Linked DNA regions of Homo sapiens: regions 1, 2 and 4 are each linked to region 3. Evidence: fine-mapped expression QTL. A gene starts in region 3. Each other region holds a variant in brackets. All regions are shown on one strand. Distances are from middle to middle.

Evidence for each region. PIP is the estimated chance that this variant, and not a neighbour inherited with it, causes the effect.
Region 1: its variant is the best candidate, but not a certain one, in a credible set for the expression of SATB1 in whole blood (INTERVAL, PIP 0.86).
Region 2: its variant is the best candidate, but not a certain one, in a credible set for the expression of SATB1 in whole blood (INTERVAL, PIP 0.54).
Region 4: its variant is the best candidate, but not a certain one, in a credible set for the expression of SATB1 in whole blood (TOPMed, PIP 0.57).

What each region holds. Positions count from the first base shown.
Region 1 is chr3:18,207,751-18,210,437 of GRCh38, reverse strand. All of the region lies in intron 4 of BALR6 (B-cell acute lymphoblastic leukemia associated long RNA 6), which reads right to left. Among named protein-coding and RNA genes, the nearest start is that of SATB1, 220 kb to the left of the region's middle. The variant G/T (reference allele first, on the strand shown) is at 1,421.
Region 2 is chr3:18,268,646-18,271,332 of GRCh38, reverse strand. It overlaps BALR6 (B-cell acute lymphoblastic leukemia associated long RNA 6), which reads right to left. Exons shown (of 5, transcript NR_161333.1): 5 at 2,411-2,687. Among named protein-coding and RNA genes, the nearest start is that of SATB1, 160 kb to the left of the region's middle. The variant C/T (reference allele first, on the strand shown) is at 1,413.
Region 3 is chr3:18,424,225-18,426,911 of GRCh38, reverse strand. It overlaps SATB1 (SATB homeobox 1), which reads left to right and starts at 1,573. Exons shown (of 11, transcript NM_002971.6): 1 at 1,573-2,687.
Region 4 is chr3:18,223,037-18,225,723 of GRCh38, reverse strand. All of the region lies in intron 4 of BALR6 (B-cell acute lymphoblastic leukemia associated long RNA 6), which reads right to left. Among named protein-coding and RNA genes, the nearest start is that of SATB1, 200 kb to the left of the region's middle. The variant C/A (reference allele first, on the strand shown) is at 1,385.

The sequences.
Region 1 (2,687 bases), 220 kb after region 3:
AAACATAATTTCCATTTTGAATTTTGATCTTACCTTCCAGAAACGCTAATACTGTCCAGTTTGTCATTTCTCTATGCTCCCACAGCACCAGGTATACACACTTCTATGTCAGCAGTCAGCATATGGATTTATAGTGGGTTTGTTCACTTTTCAATCTCCCATATGAAGCCATAAGCTCTTTGAAGACTAAGACACTGTTTTTCAATGGTCCACTTAAGTCTCCAGGGTCCACTGCTGCAACTAGATCAGCTGTTTTAGCTATTCTGTCTGGTCGTCCAGACCTTGAGTAGTGCTGCTATGAATAAACCCATAATGCTCTGTGCCTGTGTCCAAGTAATGTCACAGCCAAATGGGGGAAGTGAAGAGAAATGCTGTTATCATGTGGTATTCAAGCACTAACTCCTAAAAGGGATGGCTTATTTCTCAGGATAGTAGACACTCATGCTGACTGTGGTAAGACAAAACATACGGAGAAAATAACGTGTTGCTGGAAACCAATGTGATCTAATAATGAAATTTTCCAAGGCATAAATGATTGCTTTTCCAATTTGCCTTTATCCATAACTAGAGTTGTGGGGAAAACATAATTCATGAAGGTGTATTGTCCAAAGAGGTTAAAAAAAGGTTTGTCATATGCCAATGAGGGATTGACATTTGTTTGAATCTGGTGACCTCCAAGAGGAAGCTGCTGTGGGACTGGGCTTTCGATAAATTCTAATTTGGTATCCTAATGGGTAGTTATCACCATTTTCAAAGTGTTTGTTCTTATTGACACGTATTTGCCTTCTTGTTTATACTCTCCTATTTGTATTAGCCTTTTTGCCATTTATCTGTCTGGGTTCTGAGTTTCAATATTCAACCAATTCTACAATAAGCATTTGGTCATGTTTTGACATCTCTGAAATTGGAGTGTGTTAGTACAATTGTTGACATCTTATTGTCATGGGTCAGCCAGGACCATTTGTGACTTTGCCGCTATTGTCTGTGCAAACTTGGTCATTAATTATTGGTGGCCTGACAGACTAACTGTAACCCCTTGCCCCATAGGAGAACTTTTTGTATCCCCCACTGGTGTGAGGGCAGGACAGGGTTTTCTCCACTCTGTATCTTCACTAGAGTGATCTGGATTCTCTATTTCTTTCATCTGTTGTCAGGAAGCTTCTTTGCCAGGGCTACAATGCCTAGTAGTCCAGAAGAGATGTGAGCTGAGGAAAACATGAGGTCCCATCCTGCTCACCCTTATCTCAGTGTAAAGATAGATGTCTTTCCATGCAAAAGGAAGAACAGTCAACCTCAGAGTTCCTCCTCTGTACCACAGAGATTAGGAGCAAACACTTCTGCATTTCACTAGGGTAATGTGTCAGCCTCTCCACATCCTAGCATTACTAGATGTGTTTGGAAGAAAAGAGTGCTAACTCAT[G/T]GTGGCCTCCCAAAAGCCACGTGGTAGCGTCTGTTCTACACTGCCTGCTTCTGCTCTTTACTCTCAGCTCTACCCTGGTATATCTGTCAGTGTTCGTTCAAGAAAATAGACACATGCCTGATATTCAAATGGAGAGGACTTAATAAAAGCAATTGGTTACACAGATGTTGAAGATTAATGGCAAGAAGGAAACCCAGAAGCAATAGTAGCCACAGGAAGCAGCTACAATTCCTAGGTTTGAGGGAACCAAAAGGAAAATTTATGGGCACCAAAACCTAGGAGTCAAGAGGAAGGGCCCCATGTTGCCAGTGCTCAGGGATGGAGGTGCCACACACTGATAATTAGGTCTCTGAGGGGGTCCAGACACAGGGCTGATGATGGTACCTCTAAGGGATGGGTCTGAAAGGGTTTTTAAAAGCTGGAGACTGGAGCCATAGCTGCCCTCTGCTGCTAAAGAGATGTGCCAGGAGCTGCAAACAGGAAGATGTTGTCCAAGGACTCTTTCTCTCATCCTCTCATGTTGCAGTCTCCTGCCAATGCTGCTCAAAGGCAGAATTTAATGGGAATCTATCCAGCAGAGGAATCTGGGAAATGTAGCTTGCAGACTTCTAGTAGAATATAGAGAAAATGTGGGCTTGGGACTCAGAGACAACAAAGAAATAAATGTCACAATAGGCCACTGAGTTCTTTGCAGCTGGTTACTGCCTGGAACTGGAGATTCATTTCCTCCCAGATGTGATGCGTTCACCAGGGGATACACTTCAGAAGTGGGGTGATCTGAGGAAGACCACGTTTCCCCATGTTGCCCCCTCCTGATCATCTTCCATAGCACCATGAGCACAAAATAACATGTACACAACATACTCCACTGATGGGAATTAAAACTACAAGGAAAAGAACTTAAGTTAGGGAGCATAATGTGGCTATTCTTAGTCTAAAATAGGGGTTCTCAACCTTGGTTCTACTGACATTTAGAGGTAGATAATCCTTTGCTGTAAGGGGCTGTCCTAGGCATTGTAATATGCTTAGCAGCATCCCTGGCCTCTACCCACTAGATGCCAGCAGCACCCTGCCCTAAGTTGTAACAATAAAAAATGTCCCCCAACATTGCCAAATAGTTGGAAAGAGGCAAAATCACCCCCAGTTGGTCTAAGAGTAAAGCACAAAAATTTAAACCTTAAGCATTTCCCTGTGGGTATTTTCCAATTCCTAGATTTACTTCTCTTCAAAAAGAGCCCTTCTAATGTCTTTCTATTACAACTATATC
Region 2 (2,687 bases), 160 kb after region 3:
AGGGAGAGAAGATGCAGGAGAGAGTGTCCATGTTAACAAAGAGCAAAGTACCTCAAGGACTCCATAGAGGTGGGACTTTGGAAAAGCAAATGAATTTCTGTTCTTATAGACAGAAAAAAAGGAGAGGATGAAAGCTGAAGGAACCAGGTTGATATGACCTCCAAGTGGAGAAAAAATAAAGGAGTAGAATACCAAATGAAAACCAGAGTTACTAGGAAATCAGAAAAATGGAATGAACAGGTTTAAGAGCATCAGATTTTGGTAGACTGAGAAGTCTTCAAAATTAGGATTCACTTGTCTGGAAGATGGACTTTCCCAATAGCCTTTCCCTTCTTGGCTTCCAAGACACAAAAATGACAACTTCGTTTTTTTTAATTAGTCTTTTTTCATGATCTGTTCTCAAATAGGTTCCATTATAGCAGATCTGGTCTCCCCTTCCTAGATTGCAAATGAGTTTCTGATCCATCATTACACGATGTCTTCCAGTTCATTCTGTCACTCTGAGATTTCCTTAGATAGTCCCAAAACATTGAGTCACAAACTTGTAGATACTCTTACAGTTGGCTAATCAAATGTACTGTGAGTGGAACTTATTCATTGAATTATTAATAGAAAATCTTAGTCTGTTGCTCCTATGAAGATCACTAACAGGACATAGCTAAAAATCAACCAATTCACAGATTGATGTAACAGGTGCTCATATTGGAATGAACTGCTCATCAGAGTTCTCATCTTATTCTCTCTCTCTCTCCATTGTCTGTACCCCACAGAAGGCCTGAGCTGTAAAATGGAAATGATCGTAAGACAAGTTCTCTCCACCATGGCCTCCAAGCACATATACCACTTCATTAATCAGCTGGTATTCCCAAAACCTCCAGGTTGTAAAAGCAGTCTATTTATGAAATATCTGGCTACGGCGTATAATAAACAATGCCAGAGTGAACTGAAAACAGACTAATTTAATAAGCAATTCCTTTCCCCTACACTGTTTAAATTTACATAATCAACTGGCTATAATATTTAGCATACTTTTAATGTTTCTCATTTGTTTACACTACAATTCTGTGCTTCAGACTTCTCCATTCACCAAAATATTGATTGGTCTACTAAGGGTACAGAACAGCAGATATTCCACTGGTAATCATTACGTGAATATGGAGGAAGTGAGAAGTGGAGCTACTGTATTTTTCTTGTTAATTACAAACCTAATATTCTATTAAAATGTATGAGATGACAAAATCTCAACAAACTCTTTAAAGCTATTACTAGCAGATAAAGTATTCTACCAAAGTATTAATATTAGCATCATTAAAATAGTTTTATCAAGTGTGCGTTTATCTCCAGATTGGAAACAATAGCAGCCTGAAGGTAAGAAATGCCCTTGAGTACTGTGGTATGAAAACCAACAGCAG[C/T]TTTAGAGTCACATAAAATCTCCTTGTGGCTTCACAACTAAAGAAAAAAAAATCTTGAAGCCACAGTTATAAGATGTAATAGAGTAAATGAGTCTATTTTTCATCACCTTGGGCTCTGAGAAGAAAACATGGCAGAGTTATATCGATAAGGGAAGAGCTCAGATATTAAAATACATTAACTTTACTTTAATTGATTTAAACAGATCCAGAGCTTTCTTAATGCACATGATGTTATTTCTGCATTAGTGGACAAAATAGATCTGCGTTAGATTGCAAAGCTCCATCTCTGTATCTCTGTCTGGTATGGAGAGAAAAACCTCTCCATTTCTTAATCTCTCTTAAAAAAACAAAACAACACAGGAAACCATACATATTTATTAGCTCTAGTCAAATAATTTCTTTCTTTATCTTCTCCTTGAAATGTCTTCTGGCAACATCAATACAGTGTTCTCCTATAGCTCAGAAAGCTATAATCAGGGAACAATAACAACAGATAGCCAAAGTTTCTTCTATACACCATAAGAATAAAACTTTAATTAGACCCCTCCAAATCTCTAACTGAAATAGTTTATCTCATCAGTTTCTTCCTCTCTGTTATTCTCTTTGTTTCTGTAGCACAGTTTGAAAAATGTCAGATGAATCACTGAAGGGTAGAACCAACTAGAAAGCCTCACCAGACATGACATCCATTCTCGCATTCACAGATGAGGAAACTGAAGCTCAAAGAAGGAAAGTGACATCACAGAACTTGTTTATGACAGAGTCCACTCTAAACTCTTGATCTCCTTTGTGTTATTTGAAGCATTTGTATGGGATCCCAGAGAAAAAGTGAAAAGTATAAGTATAGGCTTCCATTTCAACTCACTCCTTTTAAATTCAGAAAATTTTAATTTTTGGTCAAAAATCTGTAACAATCCCTTATTCTGATATGAGAAGAATGTGAGAAATGTGTAGATGTTTCTCTAGCAGTCAAATTAAATGATGAAGCTTCCTCTTTGTTTTTTGGTTCATAGAAAGTATTTTCTTCTAGAGTCTCTGCAGATTGGAGTACTGCTTTTATTCGTGGGTTTACTGAAGCACCAGTCAGGGCCATAAAAAAAGTTAGAAACCTATGTTGATTCTCAGAAAGGTAAAGTCCAAGGTGATGTAGAAATATGCTGCCACCACCCCCACTTTCAACATCCTACTGCACATACAAGGATCAGCAAATGAAAGAATAATCCATGTTAGCACACTGCGGAAGTCAAAACTCTGTATTTCTTTAATAATCCTAAA
Region 3 (2,687 bases):
CCCTAGGAGGCCATCATTTCCTACACTTTTCTGCTTTACCTTTTGGCTTTTCTTTAGATTTGTAATGTAAACAGTGTGCCTAAGAGTGTATTGGTGGCTTTACAGAGCTTAATTTGCAAATTTCCCTTTTATCTCAGTACTTGTGCTAACTTGTTGCTTTTTTATGTGTAACAAAATGTTTATCTGACTGATTTTTCTCTTTTCCCTACCAGCAAATTCTGAAAAATAATTCTTGTTTTTTGTTAATGATTAACTGCCTTCAGGGTGCTAAAATGGTAGAACTAAAACCTAAGCGATAAATGAGGCATTTCTATTTTGGGTTACATTGTAATATTCTTTATTTTTACATGAACTATATTTAATAGATTGTCTAAATAATAGGATCATACTTATGTGGTAATGACCATTTATCTAACTGGGTAACCTACCCTAGATTACAGCAGAAGTGTTTATTGCTACAACAGATGTATTTACCAACCCAAACTTTCCTCTTTTGCCTAGCGTAAATTATTTGAAGAATGATGGCATCTTTTCCTTTATAATAACAAGTCAGGTCTCTTTCAAGTGACCCAAATTTTGTTTAACTCGGCCACGTATTTCTTCTTCCAAAGTATTCTATGGCTCAGAAGTGAGGGCGATTTGAACCAACGTCTGACTAGTACAGAACGCTCTTACTCAGTTCTTTCTAATGTTGGCTCCTCATAGTTTAAGGACCACCCTCCTTAGAGGATAAACATTCCGAGCGTTTCGAGGCTCCTGGCCTTTATTGCTGTACACGTTTCTGCACCCTCCGCGCTTCCCCGGAGAGAACTGCCTTCCGTCTGTACCCCTCCAGCCACTTCCTGATGGCTCCCTACCTCATTCCTCAGCGCCTGTCACCTGCGTACCCGCGCCCTTCTCCCACGGGGCCGGTGCGTCTCCCTGTCCCCCCACCTCGCCTGTCCCTCTGCGACGCTCCAGGCGTACTCCTTTTTGTGGCTTTTGTGGCGTGTGGGTGGTTGGTTAGTTTTCTCCCCTGGCCCTCGCCCCCTCCTCCCCGTCATTTTCCTTCCCCCCGCCCCCCGTGCCCGTCCTGCCCGTCCTGCCCCTCCTCCCTCCCACTCACACACCTGCCCCTGCCGCCCGCGCGCCGCGCGCTCCCCTCCCCGCTCCGGCGGACGCTGCCAGGGAAGCCCCCTCTCCTCCTCCCCTCTGCGCCCTCCCTGGCGCGTCTGGCGGCGGCCGGCGCTAGCCCTCGCACAGCGCCCTGTTATTCTGGGTATTGTGTGTAATAAATGTCGGGCCGCCTCACTCTAATCAAGCTCATTACAAATTCTTGCGCGCCCGGGGCCGGAAATCGTGCGCTCCCCCCATTCCCTCACTCATTCACTAGTTACTTGTCTTTCGGCTTTTTAACTCGCCGCCCCCGCCCCCTCCCCCAATCCCGGCCCTCCAGCCCGGGTTTTAATCCCCATCCCTTTTCCGCCCGCTCCGTGCACCCTGCCCCCCCACGCCGCCTTCCTCCTCGGCTCCGCACCCCCTTCCTCCTCTCCTCCCCCCTCCTCCTCCTCCGCCGCCGCCGCCGCCGCCGCCACTTTCTCGCTCGCTCCCGTTCCCCGGACGCGGCGGATGAGCCGGCCCCGCTGGGGAAGGCTCCGGGCGGCGGCGGGCGGCCGGGAGGAGGCTGCGTGCTCGGGGCTGGGGCTGCGAGCGGGGTGATTTTGTATTAAAATGAGGAGGAGGAAGAAGAGGCACCCACAGCGGCAGCGGCGGCGGCGGCGGCAGCAGCAGCAGGAGCAGCGGCGGAGAGGGCTGCAGCCCGGGCGGACGCGCGGAGCCGAGCGGGGCACGGCGGCGGCAGCGACAGCGGCCGGGATGAGTCAACTAATAATTTAATGGGGGCAGAGACGGCAGCGAGGGGTAGAGCTAGCGAGGGAGAGAGCGAGAGAAGCAGCCCCGTCCGGGGACTCGCGCTCACACTCACGCACACACACAAACACACACACACCTCTCCCTGTGCCACCCAGCAACACCCGGCCTCGTCACAACAACAACAGCCGCGGCCGCCCTCTATCCTGCCCGGGGGCCCAGCCGAAAGCCAGGGCGACTCTAGAGGACGCTGCCCGCCCCCCTCTTTCATTTCGGGAAACTCCTGATCAGTTTTGTCGGGGTTTCTGGGTTTCTTTTCCCCCAAAGTCCTAGTGCCATTGTGGTGCTCGTTGTTTACCTCGGACTCTGGACGAGTGAGAGCTTGGCGACTTTTTGGGGGGAGGGGGCGGGGAGTTTGTCGCTGCCTAGGCGGTGGAGGTGGCTGGGGGTGCCTTCTGATCTTCCTCCTCCTCCCCCTCCCCCCGAACCTCTTCTCTCCTCACTTGCTGGGACCCCAGACGCTCACAGCCCCGCGTCAATGGGCAGGGAGAGGGTCCTTGCGGCTGTTGTCAGCGAGGGCAGAATCAAAAGTGGCATTTTAGTGCCTTTCCGGGGCTTTTCTCGCGACCCCCTGCCCCCCACCCTCGCTGTCCCCCGCTAGATGCCCTCGTTGGGGGTGCGAGGCTGTGGGGAAAAGTTTAAGGTTTGTTAATATTAGTCGCGATTGTTGGCGAGGGGGGTGGGGGTGATTGGAAGGGAGGCGAGGTGGCCTTCCCAATGCGCGTTATTCGGGGTTATTGAAGAATAATATTGCAAGTGACAGCCAGAAGTAGACTTTC
Region 4 (2,687 bases), 200 kb after region 3:
ATCCCCCTCCACATGAGCTATCCAGCCTGTTCCTGCCCTGAAGCTGGCATGTGCCCTTTTCAGCTCTGAAAAACCTCAATTTGCATAAAGGTCCTCAGCCATCTGAATTAGCTTTGTTTTTGTGTGGAACTGTAAAGGTTGAGTGGTAAGGGCTTAAAGAATCTCTTAAATAATTAAATGGAGTAAACAAAGTGACATCTTGAAGAGTGAGTTTTTTTTTTCTCCCCTTGGGAGAAAAATAGCAAATTCCTTAAGATAATACATTAGATAGAAAGGGGCAAACATTTTTAATGAATAGAGTAGGGTTTGGAGGAGTGTTGAAGAAGCAATGCAGGTTTTTGGCTAGCTACTTCTGGTGCCAGAGATGGTTTTTGGGGTCTTCTTTATCAATGTGGTGGCAACATCTGTGAAAAGTGAAGATTTAAAAAACAACATTGCAGGCTGTTACAGAGGATACTAAAGATGCATCACTAATGACATAGAAGGGTGTGTGTGTCTACATAGGAGAAAATGGAGTTACCTCTCTCAAAAGTGTTTCATGAAAGAACAAAGATGACTGCAGGACATAAGGGATTTTTTTGAGGTATCATACTGTTCTGCCCACCAGCTGATGATGAAGCTATAGATAATTTTCAAAAAAGATAAAAATTAACAAAAAGTGAAAACAGGAACATTTTCTGATGCTATTGATAACTTAATGAAAATGTAAAGAGACTTATGTGAAACTGAATTTTATTTTCCAAGGGATAAAGGAGAAACGTAGACTTCCAGAGCAGGTTCATTTTTGCTATCGGAAGTATAGCTGAATAAGGCAGCCTCAAATGAAACCTAGAGCCAAAGGTTTTCTTCATTCCCTTCTAGTGTGTCCATAACTCTCCTGGAATCTGTGAGCTTGCAAGACAATCTAGCACACATTTGAGCTTTCAAGATGCATGGCACATCCAGACTCGATGTGGTGTTAGTAGCTCCTGTCATTAATAAATTCCTTTGCACAGTGGCTTCAAACTACCTGTCCACCAATTGCTTTCTCTGTTATTTGGTTCCCCTTATTTCTCGATTTTCTGAATGTCAGAACTTGGCTAAACAAAATGAAATACAACTTTCTACATGTAACCCTTTTACTTCCTCATTTCCACATGGCAACATATTTTCTTACTCCAAACACTGCAGTCCTTAAAATTCTACTCAAAACCTCTTTCTTCTATAAACTTCATTCAGTTTCTTTTCATTTCTTATAGTATCCTTTCAGAATTCATTCATTCATTCATCAAACTTTTTTGGAGCACTTACTATACATAAGGCAAAAAAAAATAGGATCGGAGACTACAGAGATGAACAAGTTGCATTCTCTACTCTCAAAGAATAAATCGTCCAACTGTCTAGA[C/A]GGGCAATAGATTGTGGTAACTGCAGTGAGAGAAATATCTAGGAACAGGGGAGTGCACCTGAGGGGGTGTCAGTAGAGAGACAGGCTAACGCGGAAGTTTCCTGAAAGATACGATGTCTGTGATGAGTCTTAGAAGATGAGTAGAAGTCAGCCAGGCTGGGCATCCCAAGTATGAAGGTTAGTACCAAGCCTGAAAACAGTATACTAGAACTTCTCTTCACATTGACGCTTTTGTTGCCTAAGTGTTCACAATAGTCTGTCTTGGTTCCACCTTCAGGCTGACTTCAGACCATCTGAGGGAGGAATTAAGTGAGATAATGGGTTTATCACAAAGTGGTGGGAGACAGCTTCTAGAATTCTTATTATGATTATTAAACCTGGTTTCTGCTTTATCTCTTATTTTCCTGAAGTACCATTAAAGTGCTCTAAGTACCCAAATCTTGCTATTGGTTTCTTTACTCCTCTCTTGTCACTCTGGTAGCAGGCAGGGCAGACCTCGGCTACCAAAGTGAGAATGAGGACTCAAGGAGGAAGTGAAAGATGGTCACAGAATCAAAAAGCATCCCCAGACTTCCTGTTGGGAGCTCTCTGCTAGTGTCCCCAGGGTGTTGACAGTAACTGTTCTGGGGGATGAGGCGAGGGAGGGGTGCAGTGGGCTGCAGAAAGACACAGCAGCTGGCTTCATTACTACATCCCTAACAAAGGGTCTCTATAAATCAGACAGGAGGGAAGTGTATGTTTGGCAGGGGGAGGGAAGTTGGTGGGTGCTTGCTCTTTGGCAAATGGTTTAGAACTCATTGGGGCTTACAACCATAATCTACTGATTTGGGAGCCATGGACAAAATCTTTTCTTTTCTAAGCGTTATACTAACAGTGAATATAGATTTTGTTTTCTGGTTTAAATGTGAAGCAAAAAGACACATGATATGATTTTTAAGTAATATGTTCTTAAGTCTATTTCGTTTTAAGCAACTCATCTTCACCAAAAGTGCATCATTAAAACTGGTGGTAAATATATGTATACAATTTTTAATATAAATCTGCCTCTCAATCAGTTTCCACATCGCCTGTACATTTATATCAGATCTCTGAAGCCCACTGAACATTAGCAAGAGAAGTGTGAAAAGACAGAAATAGTATCCAGTCCTTGCAGAATGTCTCATTTAGCGGAGTGGGGAAGCTGAGGGGAAGAAATAGTAGTAATATTTTTTGTGTGTGGCCCCATTACTTTTTCAAAGCATTTTCCACCTTTAATTTAGTTGTGACTTCCAGCTGTTTTTGACAGATGGGAACACAAAAACAA